Regions from separate parts of the Homo sapiens genome. Here region 1 is linked to region 2. A link means that fine-mapping ties the variant in region 2 to the expression of a gene that starts in the linked region. Tissue or cell type: esophagus muscle. Region 2 holds a variant in brackets; the other region holds the start of a gene. All regions are shown on one strand. Distances are between the middles of the regions. Region 1 holds the start of IMMP2L (inner mitochondrial membrane peptidase subunit 2). Region 2 overlaps IMMP2L (inner mitochondrial membrane peptidase subunit 2).

What was found.
Region 1: IMMP2L starts here. The variant in region 2 is fine-mapped to the expression of IMMP2L in esophagus muscle (GTEx, PIP 0.98).

What each region holds. Positions count from the first base shown.
Region 1 is chr7:111,556,197-111,566,640 of GRCh38, forward strand. It overlaps IMMP2L (inner mitochondrial membrane peptidase subunit 2), which reads right to left and starts at 6,296. Exons shown (of 6, transcript NM_032549.4): 1 at 5,655-6,296. RefSeq lists a silencer at 5,828-6,457.
Region 2 is chr7:111,532,940-111,543,383 of GRCh38, forward strand. All of the region lies in intron 1 of IMMP2L (inner mitochondrial membrane peptidase subunit 2), which reads right to left. Among named protein-coding and RNA genes, the nearest start is that of IMMP2L, 24 kb to the right of the region's middle. The variant A/G (reference allele first, on the strand shown) is at 6,166.

The sequences.
Region 1 (10,444 bases), 23 kb after region 2:
AGTAGCAGCCATGTATAATGAAAGAGTTTGGGAACTCATGTACAGCATCAGTACTATATAATACTGTATTGTATTCCTGACTTTTGCTAAATGAGTAGATTTTAGCTACTCTTGTCATACACACAAAAATGGATAACTATGTAAGATGATGGATGTTACTATGTCTCACTACAGTAACCATTTTACTATTTACATGTATTCCATAACATGTTATTTTCCTTAAATATACACAATAAAATGTATTAAGTAAATACCCTGACTGAAGAACAATTATCTCCTAAGAGGGACCCAAGCATATCTACTCTCTATTCTCATGTCCAGCCCCCTTCAGCCTCATCTCCTATTCAGTCCTTTACCCACAGCACGATAGCTTTACCTCCACCACTACAATGAAACCAGTGACTTCTAACAGTCATTGATGATTGTAACTTTACAATCATCATCATACTTAATGGCCACTCTCCTTCAGCATCTTTACATCTTTCTCTTTTATGGTTTCTCCTTTAAATTTTTACATTCTCTAAGACTAATTTTTAGCCCTTTTCTCTTCTCTTTCTATACAATTCCTCTATGTACTTTTATCCGTATCTATGGATACTTCAGTTACTCTCCATATGGTAAGAACACACAAATCTGTTTCTCCAGCCTTTGCAATCTCTTGTGATGTTCCAGGATCCTATATCCAACTGCCTTCTAGACATCTCACACTTGCCAATGATATGCCCTGCGAGCATGTTAAACACAGGTCCAAAGTTGAACTCATTCTCTTCTCCCTCATACCTTCTTCCTCTTCTCTTTTCCCACTCACAACCCAGAAACCTAGGAAGCATTCTAACATTCTCCCTCTCCCATATCTTTTACATTCAAACAGTCACAAAGACCAGCAAATTCTCCCTCATCTTACTTTTCCTAAACATTCTCACTTCTCTATTCCCACTACTTCCACCTTTATCTAAGCTTTCAACCTCTCTTATCCCTACTGATGTACTGTCCTTGAAAGCTTCCAGTCTTGCCATGACCCCACACCCAACCCCACTCTACCCTCAATCTACCCAGCACACTGCTTTCAGTGATCTTCCATGACACTCACAATTCTTCAGTGGCTCACTACTACACATGGTATAAGAAGTGTACCCTGAACTGGCTATCCAGTTTCATCTAGGAAGTGTACCCTGAACTGGCTAACCAGTTTCATCTCCTTTCACTCCTGACCTTGTCCTTCACACTCTAATATAACTGACCTACATATAGTTCCCAGTATACACTATGTTCTCGTAATGCCACACAACTACTCATGCTGTTAGCTTTACCTAGAAATGCTTTCTATTGCTTGTCAACATGCCCACTCCTACTCAGTTTTCAAGTCTCAGCTCAAACACAACCACTACTAAAACCCTTACCTGGTATTGCAGGCAGAGATCAAGAGCTCTTGCTAGATTTCATTTGTACTTGTACCTACCTCTGTTATAGCAAATAGCATACAGTATTTGAACTATTGGTCAAGATATCTGTAGTCCTACAGACTATAAGATCCTTGGTCAAAGATGACTTTTCATCTTTATATCCTCCTAACTAGTTCAATTCACACAGTCACTAGTTCCATGTACATTACTAGCTCAATGCAGATAGATATACTAAAAAAAGGAGGGGCGAGGTTAATGAATAAGGTACGAGTCAATGAAAGAACAAGAAAATCAACTGGACTTTGAGTATAGAAAAAAAAACACCAGATCTTAAGAACGTACAGACATCTTTAGTACAGACATCTGTTACTGTAGTACAGATATCCATTACTAAGTCCTAACCATTAAAAAAAATAGAAAAATATGGTTATTCAGGTAGTATGAAGATGACAAAGAAAAAAACTTATTATTGGACTAAGTAGACATTAAGAAGGTAAGAGTTTCCAGCGGAACAGTTGACAAAGATCAACAGAGAAGCCAGAGAAAAAGATGGTTCTTTCTAGGAAACAAGTAATTCATTGATCTAAATTCATGGACTGAGCAAAAGACTGCCACCTTTCTCTCAGTTCACAACCCCTCTCCTTTGTCATTATTCTGCATGACCCCTTCTGAGTCCTCACTACCAAATCCCCAATACCATGGGTAGTTCCCCTCCAATGGAGCCACAGGTCCAGGCCAGTGACTTAATCTGGATGCAAGGGCAAGGGATAGAAGGGTATCTTTGTTCTTGTGTCTAGGACTTTGAGGAAAAATGAAACAACTATTTACTGAGAATTTATTTTACGGCAGATTCTGTGCCACATTACACTCACTCACTGAATTTCACAGTAATCATAAGTAATTATCCCATTTATAGATGAGGAATTTGTGTCCAAGGTCAACAGTTAAGCAATAACAGGCCCTGCCTGAAAACCTAAGAATGACAACCTCCAGAGCTTTTTCTATACCCCTCACTACCTCAAAATGGAGGGAGACGTGGTCCAGCCATTCTAGGTTGGCACTCAGGAGACACTTACCTCCAAAACACTATTATATATGTTGATTAGAGTCTACAGTACCACTAATATATAATAAGCACACAATGAGTTTAAAAAGCTTTCCTTAGTACCTTTAGGAAAGTAAGTACTAGATTTCCTGGGGTTCTGATCTGGAAATCTAAATGCTATTTATTCCTATAAGTACATTGTTAACTTTACAAACAACAGACTTGAAAATGAACTTGTGGAATACAATGGGTTCTTAAGTAAGGCTTTTCTTTAAGAATATTTTCTTGCTTCCACAAAAAATACAAAAGCCACCAAAGATAGAATGATTTTGCCTTGTTAACTTGTAAGAACAATGACACTAGAAGAAACCTATGGGAAATGTGCTTATCTGACCAGGTGCTCATTTTCGGTGGGCTGTCATTTGACTAAAACATCATACTAAACCCTACAGACCACAGCTTATGAGAGAAATGCCACAAACTATAGCAGTACAGTTAATATGCCTATAATCTACTGACAAAACATACTCCTCAGTAAAGTGAAACCAGATGTCTGGTGTGAAATCAGATGTCTGTGAACTTGTCTTTCTCAGTTTCCAGAGCAGTATCAGATATACTAAATACACAGCTAAGCTGTATATTAAATCCACAACTTGGCAAAATCATGACAGTTTGGACATGAAGCATCAGCATTTTTATTGTAATCCTTATAAACCAAAGACATTTCCAAAATGGAAATCCTAAGTTTAAGTACTCAGCTAAATACAGTAATATGTCTTTCTCACTTTAAGAATAGTGTCAGGGCTTTTTAAACACATTATAGAAATTCTTTCCCTTCATTTTTCAAGCTGACACTCTTTATCCAAGGCTGTGGAATGATCTGATAAGGCCACATCAGGTGTCAGTCCTCGTCCCAGAAATTCTAGGATCAGATACACCAGGTGAACCCCTGTGAAAAGCAAATCCCAGGGAGGCTTAACAGCTATAGGAAAGTTAGGCACTACATGGCTTTCCACAATCAAAAGGAAGATCATAGGAAAGTAATGGGTGACCACATAGAAAAACAGGGAGGGAAATTTAAAAGTAAGTACTTCTATGCCAGGCACTGTTTTTTCACACATTCTTTTATATATACTCTTTGTTCTGTTTTGATGGATAAGAAATCAAGCAGCAGAGAAATTTTAATGGCCCAAAGTGACACAGCTAATAAAATAAGAGCCAGAAATCAAGCTCATGTCCAAAAGACTGTAAAAGTCATGCTACTTCTACATGAAGTTGTGGGGTGGAGTGAGGAGGGGTGGTAAATAGCCAAGAAGAAGGAGAAAAAGAAAGAAATTTACAATTTTATCAAATAACAGTGAAATATATATATATAAAACATGTATTATGTTCCACATATGTTCCATATATAATACGCAGTTAAGATGTATACATGTTTAACATATACTTAAGCTGCATATTTAGTATGTGTATATATGGAACAAAAAGTTGAAGAAACAAGTATCAAATTGTTAAGTGGTCATCTGAAAGTGGACTCATAGGAAACTCACTTATTGCCTTTTATACCCTCCCAGATTTAATTCTAAATAACTTTTTTTTGACTTTTTATTACTCTTATAACCAGAAAAAGACAAAGAACTATTCTAGCTTAGATCTTTTAAATGAGGCTAAATGCACAGAAACCCATGCAAGTTAAAAATGGTCTACTTTCGAATTTATTTTTCTAAGTACATCATCCTTTACACTCTCCATGATTCCTAATATTAGGTCCTTCTTATGGAACAACTACAAAAGTTATCCTCATCTAATTATTATACTCGTACACTGGAAAATGACTATAACATTATTCATTATAGGAAACAAATCATCAAGGTCAGCCATCCTTGTAAGTTTATTACTGAAAGTACTAGAAAGGCGGAATAATAATTCTGTTCTCCCACAACACTGTATAGACCTGCAAACCACTATGATCAGTAGTACAGGGAAAGTCTTGTAAATTAACATGTAACTATTGAGAAAATCCACAAAACTGGTGAAAGGCCTACCCCAAAACAGCCATCTCCAATACAATCTCATCATTCTCACCATCCTACTTTTATCAAAGTGCTGATAAAAGTGCGTAGCACATGGTAAGAGAGAATTAGCTATTGAATCAATGAAGGAACCCATTATCAATAAACAATCACTTCCTGTTTTCCATAAATTATGTGGTCACCTATCACTTGAGCACAAACAAATAGGCACGTTCAGGACACAGGCAGCCAGTATCAGAATAGGCAGCCTATCACAGAGGGCAATTCTACTTTTCCTGTGTAAGAATCCAAGAATGCAGTTTTACTACATTCCTGCTTGTAGCTAATCTGAATTTCAACTAATTTAAAACGGTTATTTATATGTGACATATAGGATGCATAATGAGCTCCCAACCTTGTGAGAGGAGCTGTGTTTCATTTCACCATACAGGGGAGAGGGAAGCAGTGTATTAAAGAAGTGATAGAAAAGTCCCACAGAAGAACCAATGAAATAGACCACACTGAAAATCACAGTAAGCCTCAGAGAACTTCAGTGTCCTTTTTGGCAACTTTTCAAAAGTGAATGGAATGCTTGCCAGGAGGTACCAAGAGTGAAAGCCCAGAGAAAAAGGCCCAGCCTGGTCATCTCTCTCCCCTCAAAACATCTTCTTCTGTAAGCTTGAGAGATCCCAAAGAACTTCAACACTTGTAATCTTGTTACTAACTTTATGCTTTGGGGTCCTAAAGGATTTTTTCAGGAGTACCCTTTTAAAATGTAAACATCCCTAGGGGGGTTACTGTTCATTATCAAACAGGACCTGGATTCTTTAGTGCTATGGTCTCAGGGATTAGTCAAAGCTGGCTAATAAGATAGGGGCCGGAGACAGACAACTAGAGAGGACCAATGTTCCAAGGTAAAAACAGGTAAAGGGGAAGTGCAGTTTTCTGTCGGGTCAAGGGGCTAAAAGGGATCCACATGCCCAAGCTGTTAAACTCTATAGACTGTGTGAGGCTGAAAACAGTCCGGGGCCTGGAGCCTGTGACTTTGAAGGTGGGTCCTCCAGTTCCCGATGAAAAGGTAGAATCTGGGCCCAAGTTCCCCACGAGCAGTTCTGGACATCTAGCCCTTCTCTCTCTCGCTCGCTCTCAGGATAAAGTCCTAGGTCCTTCCACCCCTGACCATTCCTTACTTACCCTTTCTCCCGCTCTTCCTCGGTGAGAAGGGGTAAGTGGTTATTTTGTGCCCTCGCCCAATTTGGCCAAAACCCTAAAAGTAAAAAACGACAGACAGACACGTGCTTTAAAATCATGTTGTTCAAGCCTGACGCTCTCCCACCACCTGCCCAACACTTCCAGGCAGAAGGCAGCGCGCCCCCACAGCGCTCCCTCACGGCCAGAGCCGGGGGCCGGACTAGGCCCCTTTGTGAGGACTGGGAGAGGGCGCGTTGTTGGGGCGCCGGCTCGGCGGGGAGGAGCGGGCCAGCTCCGGGCCAGGTGTGCCGCCTGTGGCGCCGGTTTCTCAACCTAGTTAGCCAGTGGCACCAAGAAGAGGACTAGGCTGGGGTGGCCGCCGCACGCGCCTCAGATAAACACGCGCACGCACACATGCTCGCGATCACGCAGGACTCGCGGCCGCGCACCCCTCCGCCTCCCGGCAACGCCCGCCCCGCCGGGGCCGGGGCCGACTCCCAGGGAAGGGTCCCCAGCCCAAGAGACCACCAAGGGTCGGCGGCTACGCGCCCGCCGACCCCTGCCAGCCTCACAGCCCCCCACCCGCCGCCGGACGCCGGGCGCCCGCCCTCCGCACCCGCTGCGCAGCTCAGCCCGGGGGAAGTCCCCGCGCAGACCCCGCCCTCCGCCGGCGGCAAGCTCCGCCCCGCTGCCCCGTCGCGCGCTGGCCGCCCGAAGCTCCGCCCCCGGCGGAAAACTGGTCTCTGGACCGCCCGCCCAGGTCGGGCTCAAAATGCGGCGTGGATCTGAAAGGATCAAACACAACACTAATTCAGCAAGCTATTATTGAGCACTTGCCCTAAGCTCAGCAACGTACTAATGGGGGAGACTACAATAAAGAGCCGAAAAGTCTATGAAACTGTGTCTTCAGCTCTTCCTCTTGTTTTAGAAGCCAGGAAACAGAGAACCCTCACAGTTACTTAAGTACAGGGCAGTAGTGGCAAAGCACCTCACTAGCGATCTCTGGGCAACTCTTCATTTCATTTTTTCCTACTCATGAGCACTCAGGAAAACTATTCAGTTTTGCTGCCTCCAGGTAAAACAAAGTGAGTAACACAGGACAGGCGGTTTACTTGAGAGAAACGGGAATTTCATACTGAAGCTTTTGCCCTCAAATGGTACAAACTCTTTTTTTTTTTTTCCTGAGACGGAGTCTCGCTCTGTCGCCAGAGCGACACTGCAATCTCCGCCTCCCGGGTTCACGCCATTCTCCTGCCTCAGCCTCCCTAGTAGCCGGGACTACAGGCCCCCGCCACCATGCCCGGCTAATCTTCTTGTATTTTTAGTAGAGATGGGATTTCACCGTGTTAGCAAAGATGGTCTCCATCTCCTGACCTCGTGATCCGCTCACCTAGGCCTCCCAAAGTGCTAGGATTACAGGCGTGAGCCACTGCGCCCGGCCGAATGGTACAAACTCTTAACTGGGTTATTACAACCTACAAAGAAACCTTCTTATCCATGTTATTAATTATCCTAATTCAATGTGGTTTAAAATGTTGATGAAAGTACCCAAATCATGGTGCTCCAACAAGCTGGATGCCAACCAGGTACTCGTAAGTACTTGCAATTACAGGTGCGATATTTTCATTCCATATCATCCCAAGATGCCCTTCCTTCACGTGAAGCAGCCAGAAAGATCAACTACCAGATTCCGCATGATTGAGGAATTGATAAATAGAAAGGGAAGACCGAAACCGGCCAAATTTTCCCTTCGAAGTGAAACTTGAGAAACTTGCGTGCATTTTACCTGAGTTCCTTTCTCAGCAGATAAACTGTCAGACCTCCCAGATAGTGTCAAGGAAATGCAACTTTCCAGAACACTACATCTGGACAATGAGGTGCATCTGCTGCCTGTTCACAAACTCCTCTTCCTTACCCCTCCATAATTCCCTGCTATAGAAAGCCCTAACTTTAGTCTCCCTAAGACATGTTTGAGACTGGTCTCCCTGCCAGCATCACCTGCATTAAAGCCTGTCTTCCCTGGCAATACTCGTTGTCTCAGGGACTGGTTTTCTTTGCTAGGAGCAACCCAACCTAGGCTGAAGCCCAGGCATTTAGCAGCAGTGGCACCTAGAAATACTGAACAGACATAAAATACTTTTTTTCTCCTTTTCTTACTCCTCCAGTTGTATCTTCATTATTTCTGTCTCTATTCTCCCTCTAGATACTGCCAAACTACTCTGTGCACTTTCAGATCACTTAATACTAATGTAAATAACAGACATTCTGGCACTCTTGGTTCAAAATTTATTCTAAAGGTTTAAGAATCTACTCAGGGTCTTAAATAGCCTGATAACTAAAATTCCAAGAGTTTCCTAAAGAGAGCAAAATTGCTCTCCTGTGAAGGGGATATGTCCCAGTTTTTCTTACTTGTCACTGAAATAATTACTGCAAAGTAAGCTCTTTTCGGCCAGTGCTTAAGGACTTAATTTCAAGAGCACTTAGGTGACAGGACCACCCTCATCAAATAGCAGTCAAGAACTATTTGGTACCATGACCCCAAATTGAATGGAGCTCCTGGTCACTAGGAACTGACAGTCTGGGATGGAATGTAGGTGAATAAACAACAAAGACAGGTGTTTATGGCCTTTATTGTATTGGGAAGTCAATAAACATACAAAAAGAGTTGCTAGGTCTGGCCTGATTTTATCACTAAGATTCATCAAGTGTACTTAAAAAGAAGCTAATATCTGGAAAGGGCAGAACTATGGTATATTAGTCAGGGTTTCCTAGAGGGACAGAACCAATAGGATAGACATATAAATATAAAGAGGAGTTTATTAAGTATTAACTTACATGATGACAAAGTCCCACAATAGGCTGTCTGCAAGCTTGAGGAGCAAGAGAGCCAGTCCGAGTCTCAAAATTGAAGAACTTTGAATCCGATGTTTGAGGGCAGTAAGCGTCCAGCACAGGAGAAAGCTGTAGGCTGAGAGACTAGGCCAGTCTCTCCTTTTCATGTTTTTCTGCCTGCTTTATATTCACTGGCAGCTTATTAGATGGTGCCCACCCAATTAAAGGTGGGTCTGCCTTTCCCAGCCCACTGACTCAAATGTTAATCTCCTTGGCAACACCCTCATAGACACACCCAGGATCAATACTTTCTATCCTTCAATACATTCAAGCTGACACTCAGTATTAACCATCACATATGGAGACAGTAAAAAGATCAGTGATTGCCAGAGGTCACAGAGGAGGGGGATATGAAGCACAGATTTTTAGGGCAGTGAAACTATTCTGTATGATATGATAATGGTGATGCATGTCATTATACATTTGTCCAAACCCATAAAATATACAACCCAAAGAGGGAGCCTTAATATAAAATCTCAACTTTGGGTGATAATGATGTCAATGTAAGTTCATCAATTGTAACAAATATACTGCTCTGGTACAGGATATTCATAGTCAGGGAGGCTGTGCAGATGTGGGGTACAGGAATATATAGGAACCCTATACTTCCTGCTCAATTTTGCTCTGAACCTGAAACTGATCTTTGGGAGAAAAAAGTTTATGAGAAAAAGAAGCAGCAGTTAGAGCATCCTATTTTATTCTAATTTATCAATTAAATTCTAAGCTGAATATTTGGCTTTATGTATCTAGTTCAAATATATTTGCCTTGTCTCCTTATATATTAAAGCAGACCTCTATTTGTTGTTAATACCATCAGGGGAAAATGAATCATAAAGTCCTAACTAAGGTACAAATTTAAACTATAGTTAGGCATCAAATCTAATGGTCAAAGAGATATTTAAACAAAGTTAAAATAATTAAGTTTACAGATTCCACAAATATAGATATTAAAATATATTCCTATCTATACATACTTACCATTGGTAAGCAAATAATAGAAGGTATCATAGAGTAGCAGTTCTCAAACTACTTTTTGATCTCAAGTTCTCTTTACATTCTTAAAAATGATTGAGAACTTTAAAGAGCTGTTGTTTATGTGGGTTATATATGTCCATATTTACTGTATTAAAATTTAAGATAGAAAAATGTTAGACATGTGTTTGCTTAATTTAAACCCATTACATGTTACTGTAAAAGTTATTTTTATAAATAATGACTACTTTTTTTCCAAAAAATTAGAGAAAAGTGGCATTTTTAACATTTTATAAATCTCTTATTATCTGGCTTAAGGAGAGCACTGGATTCTCATATTCTGCCTCTGCATTCAGGCTGTTGTGATATGTTGTTATACCTAAGATATGAAGAAAATTAACTGTCATACGAATTCATAGTTGAAAAAGAGAGGACCTTACAAAGCTCCGGGAAGGGTTTCAGTAACCCCTAGGTGTTCTCAAACCTCACTTGGAGAATTACTGCCAAATGGCCTTTTGCATTTCATTTGTTTGAATGTCATATATTTCCACACAGGCTTCTGTTAACACCTGAAATTATAGCCCTTTACTTATTTCAAGCTAAAACTCATATTTGTCAGCTCATATCAAACCATGACATTTCAATAAAGTTTTTAAAAGCTTTTACTATAGCAACTCTGATGAAATTGATATTATTATTTGAATTGATATGAAAACACTTGAGATTTCATTTATATCCTTCATCTCAAACGTTTTGGAAAATTTTGAATATAAATTGTACCATCTGGAAAAAATGTAAGATTGGTATATAGTTATTAATCCAATTTTAGGTATGCTTATAACAAGGTATATCCCCTTTTATAAAAATAATTTAAAAGCGAGCTTAAAACAAAAACAAAACAAGCAATTACAGTTTTATTTATGAACTAA
Region 2 (10,444 bases):
AGAAATAAACTCCCTTGGAATGAGTGCTTATGGTCCTTTTAGCTTATAAGTGCAAGTGTACCCACAAACATGCATGCACACTTGCTGAAATGGCAACAAAGGCCAAGTTAGCAGCATATGTTAAAAAAGAAAAAGTAAAAATAAATATATAAATAAATAGAACAGCCAAGAGGCCAGAGTATAAAGCAGCTCATCCTGAGTGGCCTGGAGATAAAAGCAGATGGAGCACAGCATTACCCAGACTCAAGTGTCTGTTGCACAAAAAGTCCAGGTATTATAACGAGCCTGTGGTATTACAGCAAATGGAACTGCGATCTCATTTAGATTATTCTCCACTCTTATATGCCTTGTTTTGATTTCTGCATACTTGCCTATAAATTGGAAGACACTGTTTTAAGATACCTGTGAAATTTCATCAACTGTGGCTAGAGTTGAAATCTTAACTTCAACCTTAAGAGAAACACTGAATCAGAACTACAAAGCTGACCCGCTCCTAAATTTCTGATGATCCATGGAAACTGTGTGAGATAATAAATGTGTTAAGCCACTGATTTGGGTGGTTATTTGTTTTGCAGAAATGACTAATACAATACAAAATGCACAAAAAGACCCAAGGGCGCAAAGAAACTTGGTATTTGATAAAGTCGACATTCATATTGGGAAGAGAAGTTGAATTAACAAGTTATGTTGAAACAATTAGCTACAATTTGGAAGGAGAATAAAATCAAAGCTAGATATTTATTAAATTCATTATAAGAAAATAAATTCCAGATAAGCCAAACATTATATGTAATAAATAGAAATATAAAAATAACAAGAGAAAATAAAGGCAACAGTCTTTTAAGGGTAGAAAGAGGTCTTTCTGAACATTTTACAAAATCCAGAAAACATGAAAGATAAATACTGATAGATTTCACTACATAAAAATCAAAACATACCATAAATAATGTTAAAAGACAATCAGCAGGACATAAAAAATTATAATATCAGTATCTCTAAAATTACACAATTCTTATAAAGTATAAGAAAAAAGACAATAATTTTGAGAGAAAGGTATTTCACTGAAACAAAATATGGACAGTATATAAAGACATAAAAAGATGTACAAACACACTAATAATAAAATCAATATAAATAAAAACAAAGTACTACTTTAGTCTATCAAACTGACAAATTTAATATGGTAATATGTACCAAAATGTTACATGAATATACCTTCTGATGCAGAAACACCACTCCAGGAATTTATTTTATGGATGCAAAGATATGATCAACGATATTCAACATACCATTTTTATTGCAGTGAAAAAATGAAAACAACCAAATGTTCACAAATATGTAAATAAATTATGACATGCATACAGTAGAGTAATCTGCAATCATTAAAAAGAACAATATATCGTTATATTGCTTGAGATTCTCCTCCAAAAAAGTTGGAAAATTGCATTTTTAATATGAACCCATTTATGTGAAATTTTATACACACACAGCATCATCCTCATCGTCATCCTTATCATCATCATCATAGAAAGAGGTCAAATAATAAAGAATATGAACCAAAATGATGACAGTATTTATTTGCAATGAAAGGAATTTCACTTTATGCTTTATATTTTTCCATATTACTTAAATCTTCAGTAATAGGTATTTAGTATCTTTATATACTAAAACAAAATTAATATTACAGTCTTTTCTGCTACAATAGCTATTTCTTAATGTAAATTAGCTCATATATAGGAAAATGACGTCAGTCTTATGTGAAAGCTATGCTGGTTCATACACAATTTTCCCCAGTACATGAAGGTTTTGATTCAACCAAGAGCAAGTCTTCTCCCAATTAAAGTGAAAGTCTCATTTGGTGGCTTCAAGACTTTCCACTGTTAAAGGAGGCTGAGCATACCAACGAAGAAATGCAAAGATATTTTCCCCTGTGTTTAAAATAGAATAAAATCAACAGATCAATATCCTAGAGCAGATTTTCAACTTTGATGAAATTGGTCTGTATTAGAAGTAGATGACTTTAAGGACCTACAACAAAGGAAGAAAACCAGGGTTTCAAGCTAAGACTGATGTGATGCTGGGTGCAAATGCAAGGAGGGAGTTAATAGTGCTCGTTTTTATGACAACTTCTATTTTCTCAGCTCTGTTTACAAAATGTCACTGGTTTCAAATGATCTGTTCCTAGCCCTATTTTCTTTATAAGCCCTAAAATTTTATGGTTTAATTTTGCAGAATTAAAGATTTTTCAGGAATGCATGTATGTCATTAATAGGAGAAATGCCTCTACTATTCTGAGTAAAATGCAGTAAGGTAGAGAAATGTTCCATATCAAAAAGAAACAAAAAACAAAAAAAGGAAGCAAAAAGGAGAAATGAAGGAAGGGAGGGAAGGAAAGAAAGAGGGGGAAAAAGAGGAAGAGGAAAGAAAAAAACTGCACACTTCACTTTGTTTTAGTGAGAGTGTCTAACGAAAGATATTAAATGCAGGGCAAAACAATCTCATTAATATTCTTGATTTATACCACACATTTTGATTCTATATGAGATATATCTAAAGAAATGGTCTTTGCCCCATCGGACACTTAAAATCTAAACAAGGGAGTGAATTAAACAGTCATCAACTATGGTGGGGCAGGAAAAGGGACTAATCCAATTAACTTTAGGACACAGTTATTTAATTATACCCAACCCAAGGGTATAGAGTCAAATACTATAGGCGGTATTTGGGCTGGGAAGTTGGGGGGTGGGGAATGCAAACAGTGAGAGAAACAATTGTGAAACTACTTAAGATACATTGTAGGACTCAGCAAATGAGTTGGGAGAACAGTGGTGACTGTGGGAAAAGGGAGATAAAAATACACAGTGGGAATCAGGGAAGAATGCTGTGGGGCCCTGGAAGCAAAACCATATAGAAGTAGCAATGAGTATATGTAGTACTCAATTCTTAGGGTCTAATACCATTCCCTACTCCAAAGAATCAGCAATCTTCAGAGTAAAGGTTGATTCTGGGGCTGTGGTGGGGAAGGTTTAAGATGAGCCTGAAACATTTTCTTTGGCCACTAAGAAGTGCTTAGAAAAAAGATGGAAGTACATCAAAAGGAGACGGGAGCTTGCCTGGTGATCCCACTGGCTAAATATGAAAAAAATTTGATTACTTATTAAATAAAGTCAGTAATGAGTTTAAACTACTGGAAAAACAGCTTTGAATGTGCTAATTTTCTGAATCTGAGCAATACTTTAAAATATGGGTTTTAGCTTCAAAAGGTAAATCAGGTAATTTCATTTTATTTAAGTAATACCATGAAAATAATGTTACAAACTACTAAGTTAAATACAATATGAAATATTGGTGGTGGGTTGTTTTTTGTTGTTTTTTGGGGTTTTTTTGAAACAAGGTCTCCCTCTGTTGCCCACGCTGGAGTGCAGTGGCATGATCACGGCTCACTGCAGCCTCAATTCCCAGGCTCAAGTGATCCTCCCACTTCTGCCTCCCAATAGCTAGGACCACAGATGCACACCACCAGGCCTGGCTAATTTTTTATATTTTTTGTAGAGATGGAGTTTCACCATGTTGCCCAGGCTGGTCACAAACTCCTGAATTCAAGTGGTCCACCAGCCTCAGCCTCCGGAAGTGCTGGGATTACAGGTGTGAGCTACTGTGCTCCGCCTAAAATATTGTTTTAAAATAAGTCCCCTTTATGATCATTCTCAGAAATTTGTTAGAAAAGAAGTTCCCTTGCACATATAAAAAATTTTTTTCAATTTATAAATTATCCTTCTACACTAATTTCCAAAGAATAATCATTGAGATGAGTTAAAGCTTTTCACTATTCTTTGAATATTATATCAGCATATCCAACTGTTAATTGAATTTGAGATCCACTAGTAAAGCAAAAAGCTTGTGACTTTGAAGACTATTTAAAATGTACAATGTTTTATTAATTATCATTAGTAGTACTATTATACAATGGTTGTACCCTTGTAAGTTTGTTAAGAAACAGCTGACATTGAAATTGTCTGCATCTAAAGGACATGTCAGGAAAAGCAGAGAAATCTTACCAAAAAAAAAAATTGAATCAACATCTCTTCTTTTGGTATTTACCCCTTTCACATCAATAAACATTTACTGAATATCTGCTAAGTGCCAGGCATCATATCAGTTTCTATACCGAAAGAGTAAAGACGTTTCTGTATAGTATCTATATAGATATTGAACATTAAGCATTGTTCTTTGGAATTATTCCAGCCTTGAGATAAGGCTAAAAGGGCCATAAAAATAAAATGAAGAAAGATGGATTTTATAAAGGATAGAGGCAATTGGGGATGTTATGGAAAGACAAACTACACAGCATTTTATACTCTCTGGTTCTTCTACTTTCAGAGAATGACTCTATCATCCAAACAGCTGCCCAAAGGTCAACATGGTAGTGAGCCAAAGTGAGCATTCATGAAAAAAATAGAAATCATCCTAACTTTCTCTTACTTTAAATCGTTCAATAACTCCTCATTTTCTATAGGATAATATCAAGCTGCTTAGATTTAGCATATAAGGCTAATTATGATTAGATTCCTAGTCTCATCACTTCCACTTTTTTTTTTTTTTTTTTTTTTTTTTGAGACAGGGTCTCACTCTGTCACCCAGGCTGGAGTGCCGTGGTGCGACCTCAGCTCACTGCAACCTCTGCCTCCCAGGCACAAGCAATCCTCCCACTTCAGCCTCCCAAGTAGCGGGAACCACAGGTATGTGCCACCACACCTGGCTAATTTTTGTATTTTTTGTAGAGATGGAGTTTCATCATGTTTCCCAGGCTAATCTCAAACTCCTGAGCTCAAGTGATCTACCCACCTTCCCAAAGTGCTGGGATTACAGGTACCAGCCACCGTGCTGGGCCAGTTCCTCTCTTTCACAGCACATCATGCTTCAACCAAACCCACCTCCATACAATTTCTAGAATATGCCACACTTTTACTTGTCTCTGGGCCCTTATACATCTCTCCCTTCTGTCTACATCACTCTTCCCACCTTTCTTTGTTTTGGCCAGCTTTACCCATCCTTCAGGTTAGCTTAGATGTCACTATCAGGAAGTCCACTCCGACTCTCCAAATCTGACTTAGATTTCCTTCCTATGTGTTCCCATAAAACTCTATGCTCCCCCTAGCACAGCATTTATCACACCTGATTTTCTCATCCTTACCCCTAATCAGTTGTGAGTTCTGCGCGAGCAGAAACACTTGTTCACTACTATACTTAAGTGCTTTGCACTTAAGTGCTCAGTGTTCAATACAGTTTCATTGAAGAAATTAATTAACCACTTAGCTGTCCATATAAACTACATCATACTCAGAATGTGATATAAGTTCTGGAGGCCTTGATTGAACAGCACTGCACAACCACATGCCATAAATTTTATGTGTGTGTGTGTTAGTTTGTGTGTGTGGTGTATGTACACACAAATGACTGTCTCCATCTCTTACCTGATAGTTTTACTTCACAGCTGAAGATATTTATGAAGAAAGTGGTTTTTAAAAGAAATTATACTTATGCTGTAAGTATAAATATACACAGAAAGAAATATGTGGGCTGGACACAGTGGTTCATGCCTGTAATCCCAGCACTTTGGAGGCCAAGGCAGGAGGATCACTTGAGCTCAGGAGTTTGAAACCAACCTGAGCAGCATAGGAAGACCCTGTCTCTAAAAAAAAAAAAAAAAAAAAAATTAACATAGCCAGTCATGGTGGCACATGCCTGTGCTCCCAGCTACTCAGGAGGCTGAGGTGGGAGGATCACTTGAGCCAAGGAGATCGAGACTGCAGTGAGCTCTGATCACACCACTGCACTCCAGCCTGGGTGACAGAGCAATGAGACCCTGGCTCATTTAAAAAAAAAAAAAAAAAAAAAAGGCTGGGCACAGTGGCTCACGGCTGTAATCCCAGAATTTTGGGAGGCTGAGGTGGGCAGATCACAAGGTCAGGATGTTCAAGACCAGCCTGGCCAACATGGTGAAACCCCGTCTCTACTAAAAAAACAAAAATTAGCCAGGTGTGGTGGCGCATGCCTGTAGTCCCAGCTACTCGGGAGGCTAAAGCAGGAGAATTGCTTGAACCTGAGAGACGGAGGTTGCAGTGAGCAGATCATGCCACTGCACTCCAGCCTTGGCGACAGAAC[A/G]AGACTCCATCTCACAAAAAGAAAAGAAAAGGAAGGAAGGAAGGAAGGAAGGAAGGAAGGAAGGAAGGAAGGAAGGAAGGAAGGAAGGAGGGAGAAAGAAAGAAAGAAAGAAAGAAAGAAAGAAAGAAAGAAAGAAAGAAAGAAAGAAAGAAAGAAAGAAAGAAAGAGAACATACGTCGATTACTACATATATATCTGTATATTGAACTTCAGGAAGTTGACTTTTCTGTATTTTTCTTCAATAAATCATAACACAACACTCTTGTCCAAAAGCAGTAAAGATGGATAAGAAGGATCAAGTAACTTTCATAATCCACCCAACTATAAGGCATTAAGAATTTTTTTCCCAATTAACAGCTGATTTTTAGGAAGTGTTTAGTTAGATTTTCTTTCAAAGCAATTATTTTTCAGTCTGTGCTTCATGGTCTCCTAATGATTCCCTGGAGTCTCAAGGGCCAGGGGGAGCAGGTGCTAAGTGAACAGAGTTCTGAACTGCCTCAATCAGAGCCACTCTGCTTTTTATCTGGTTTTTTTTTTTTCAATAATGGAATTCCAACCAAGATTTTCTTTGAAGAAGGGTTCACTACATTAAAATAAGAATAAAAGAAAAAAAGAAAAAGGTTAAAAAACACTGCCTTAAAGAATCAGCAGTGGATTGAGGTTTGCACTATATAATTCAAGCTCTAATGTATTTCATATTTCTTGGTTAGACTAAATTCAACTGTCAGCTTTATAGGCCTTTCTTTGTGCTAAAATGAGAAATACCATTTGAATACAAAAATATCCAGGTAGAGGGAAAACAAAATGGGTTTTTGATAAGTATATTTATTCTCTGATGCAGCTATTTCTAAATTTACTTATTATTTTTAATGGCTTTATTTATGTACCAATCTTCAAGTTAATGATTCATAACAGAACACCAAAATAATCTAATTGAACAACAGAAGCCCACTGTAAATGCCAGCTGCTGCTATGTTTCATATACTGTAAACAAATACCCACCTCATTTTAATAGTTTCTTAGTAGAAAGATTACCTTAAAGGAAAAGATCCACCAAACTCATATTTAAATAATAATTTTAGCTATTTTCGCAATCTAGAAACAACAGGGGCTCCGGGTAACTGAAACTGGGGGTGCTCCATCATAAAACATCCAGAAGACCAGTGGGGTGAATTTGATCTGCTGGTGAACACAATGAAGACTAATAAGCAAAAATGGGCTTCTTCCAACAGAAACCTCCTGCCAACCTGTGCACAACATTGTGCAATTGCAGAACGGCACTTCACTGGAAGTCAGGGAAACACTTGCAATCAAGTCCAGGCTCTGTAACAAGTTAAGTGAATCCAAAACCTTTACAGCTGAACACATAAAATTATTCAAAAGCTCTAACGAGGTGAGAAGCAACCAAACTTGATTTTCATCTCTGGGAAACCCTATATTAGCACTGTAACCCACAAGGCCCTCTTCCACTTCCAAACTCCTCTGGCATTCACTAGCCACACCTTCATTTGGCACCCAAGAGTGTTAGTTACCGTTTTATAGGTAACTCCCCAACTAAGTTGTAAGCCCCTAAAGGGTATACATAGGTCATGTCTCACTCTTTTCTATACATCCTAAAATTCTTAGAATTTTGCTAAGCATTTGCAGATGCTAAATAAATGTATCTTGACTGTTTGTTTAATTGTAGATATGGTTTATATTACCACCCGTTTACAATGTTGATAGTTTCATATGGTTGTGTCAGACGACATTCCACTCCTTTAAATGCCAGTCAGGAGAGTAACGGAGAAAATAAGCGGCCAGATCAGGCTGTATTGACAGCCATGCAACTAATCTGATACTACCTCTCCATGCATGCGTCCCTCCCAAAGACCAAGTGCCCACTCTGTTCTAGGGCTAAGTGTTTTCTGTTCCTGCTATGCTTTGTACCAAGTCAGAAATAAGATTTGGATTCAAGTCTTAGCTATGCCAATGAGTAAGCAATTTGAATAGATGACCTTAGCTCCAATTATCTATGATTCTATGATTCTAACTTCAGGCCTTTACCTTCCAATATCAGAATGGCCCCTCCCTCACAGTACTAAAATTACTTATCTTCCATGATATGTCCCATTATCATCATCAATACACCCATGTTCAAAGGCCATTTCTGACTTCTGCTACAAGGTCAACATACTCATGAAATTATTTACACTTCTAAAGATAACACTGTTAAATTTCTTGTCTGATCTTTACGTCATACCTGCGTTCATTTAATAAACACAAGTGGGTAGTTGGGTAATATGGGAAAAGACACTCATTTAGGGAAGTTTCTAACATATTCCTGCTTTCAGCAGCAAAGATAAGTTATGGCTCCATTTGCAAATAAGCACCAATAATAGTAAATAAAACTAAATTATTTTTATACTGGTCACTAGGAAGGTTGTTTTCATCTTAAACGGCAGCTTAGTAGCCTTGAGAATAATCTGATCTCTCCCATTTTATAAGAAACTTATTTTTATTGTCTCATCAACATCAAATGATATTAGGGAGTTTCACAATGACTGTGACAATAAATGGCTTAGAAAGAAAATTCAGTAACAATTTTGATAGGTTTTAAGGAATATATGAGCTAGATAAAAATATATGAGCCATATAGAGATTTGATGCAATTTAAATTAATATCTACCAGTTTTGAAAAATAAAGTTTCTCAGAACCTAATGTAGCTTTCTTCTGCAAAAAAGACGAGGCATATCACCTAAAAAGACCTGTCCCTAACCAACTGTTATCCAAGTAATTAAAAAGAAAAGTGAAAATTTCACCTCTTCATACATGTTAAGCAAAACCAGCCATAATAAAATCCCTGATGAAAGGTGAGTTTTAAAAATAAAAGTGAGACGTAGGTAACAGAATCCTCCAAGAAATACTTAAAAGGTTAGTTTTCCTCAGCCAAAATCATATCAACATTTTCGTATATTTTGGATATTAACCTCAGTACAAATATTAGATTATCAAACATAAAATATAAAAATATTTGGCTAATGGTATAGTAAGGTTTTGTTTCATTTTTAATAGAGTGATTAGCCATTCACAAAAATCAGTCAATATTACTCCTCCATAAATTATGACAAAAAATATACAAACTCTGAATGAAGCATTAATTGGGAAAAGAAAAAAGCTAAATATTTTTATTGTGAAACTAATAAAATAAAAACCTCAGTCTAGTAGAGAATATACACTTTGTGTTGATTAAAATTTTATATCACTATGTTAAACACAGTAATACTGAAAATTGTTATTTTAATTACCTCATTTAATCTCTACATTAACCTTATTTTTATCCCCATTTTAAAAGATATAAACCGATGCTCAGAGTGCTTAAGGAATCTTCCCAAGGTCAAAGAAACAGTAAGTAGCAGAGCTGAATCCAGATTATTTGACCCTGTAAACTAGGTATTTAAGCACTATGCTACACTGCCTCCAGTTATTCATAACTCCCAATAAATATTCAACACTCCCAATAAAACACAGGGCACGATGAGTTATTGATTTCATAACTGCTACTGCAGCATTCAGATACTACTTATTTGGAAAAGTGTTCTGAATACACAATTAATTCAATCCACTATGTAAAAGGTAAATGTTCAAGTCTCATTCAAATGGAGAAGGGGTAGAAAAGGAAGAAAAGTACAAAGTCTATATGGAACATCAATTAATAAAAAATATTATCAGGGTTGTCTTTAAACTTCACAATTACTGAAGGTCCTTATTATCTTGCTGTCATTTCAGCACTCTCAATTGCCTCTTAGAATTTGAAATTTCACTGTTGAAACAAAAGAAACATAAAATATATGTGCATTCTAAAAAATTCTGCCCTTTTGCAATTTATCTTCTACATTTATTACCTGGATCTTCTAACACTCGACTAGAAACTAAAGCAATCCAACTGTATATACAAAATGTAAAACTGGAAATGCCAGAAAATCAACATGACCTTTCAAATATAACATTTTCCACAATCATTTACTTAATACTAGAAAAACATTTTACAGTATTTAAAGCATAATCTTTATGTGTAATACTTTCGGCAAATATAAAAGCAAATACAGAATAAAGTCAACCACATTTTTAAACCAAAACTGCAATTAATTTTAAACTACTACTTTTTCTCCAGTAGTTCATTATCTATCTATTAAAACATTCATAACCATATTAGTGTGCTCTCCGTTTCAAATACAAAGCTGATGTTAACCACTGTACTAGTCACCTCCTGTACCTGGTAGGGACTGCTAGTATAAC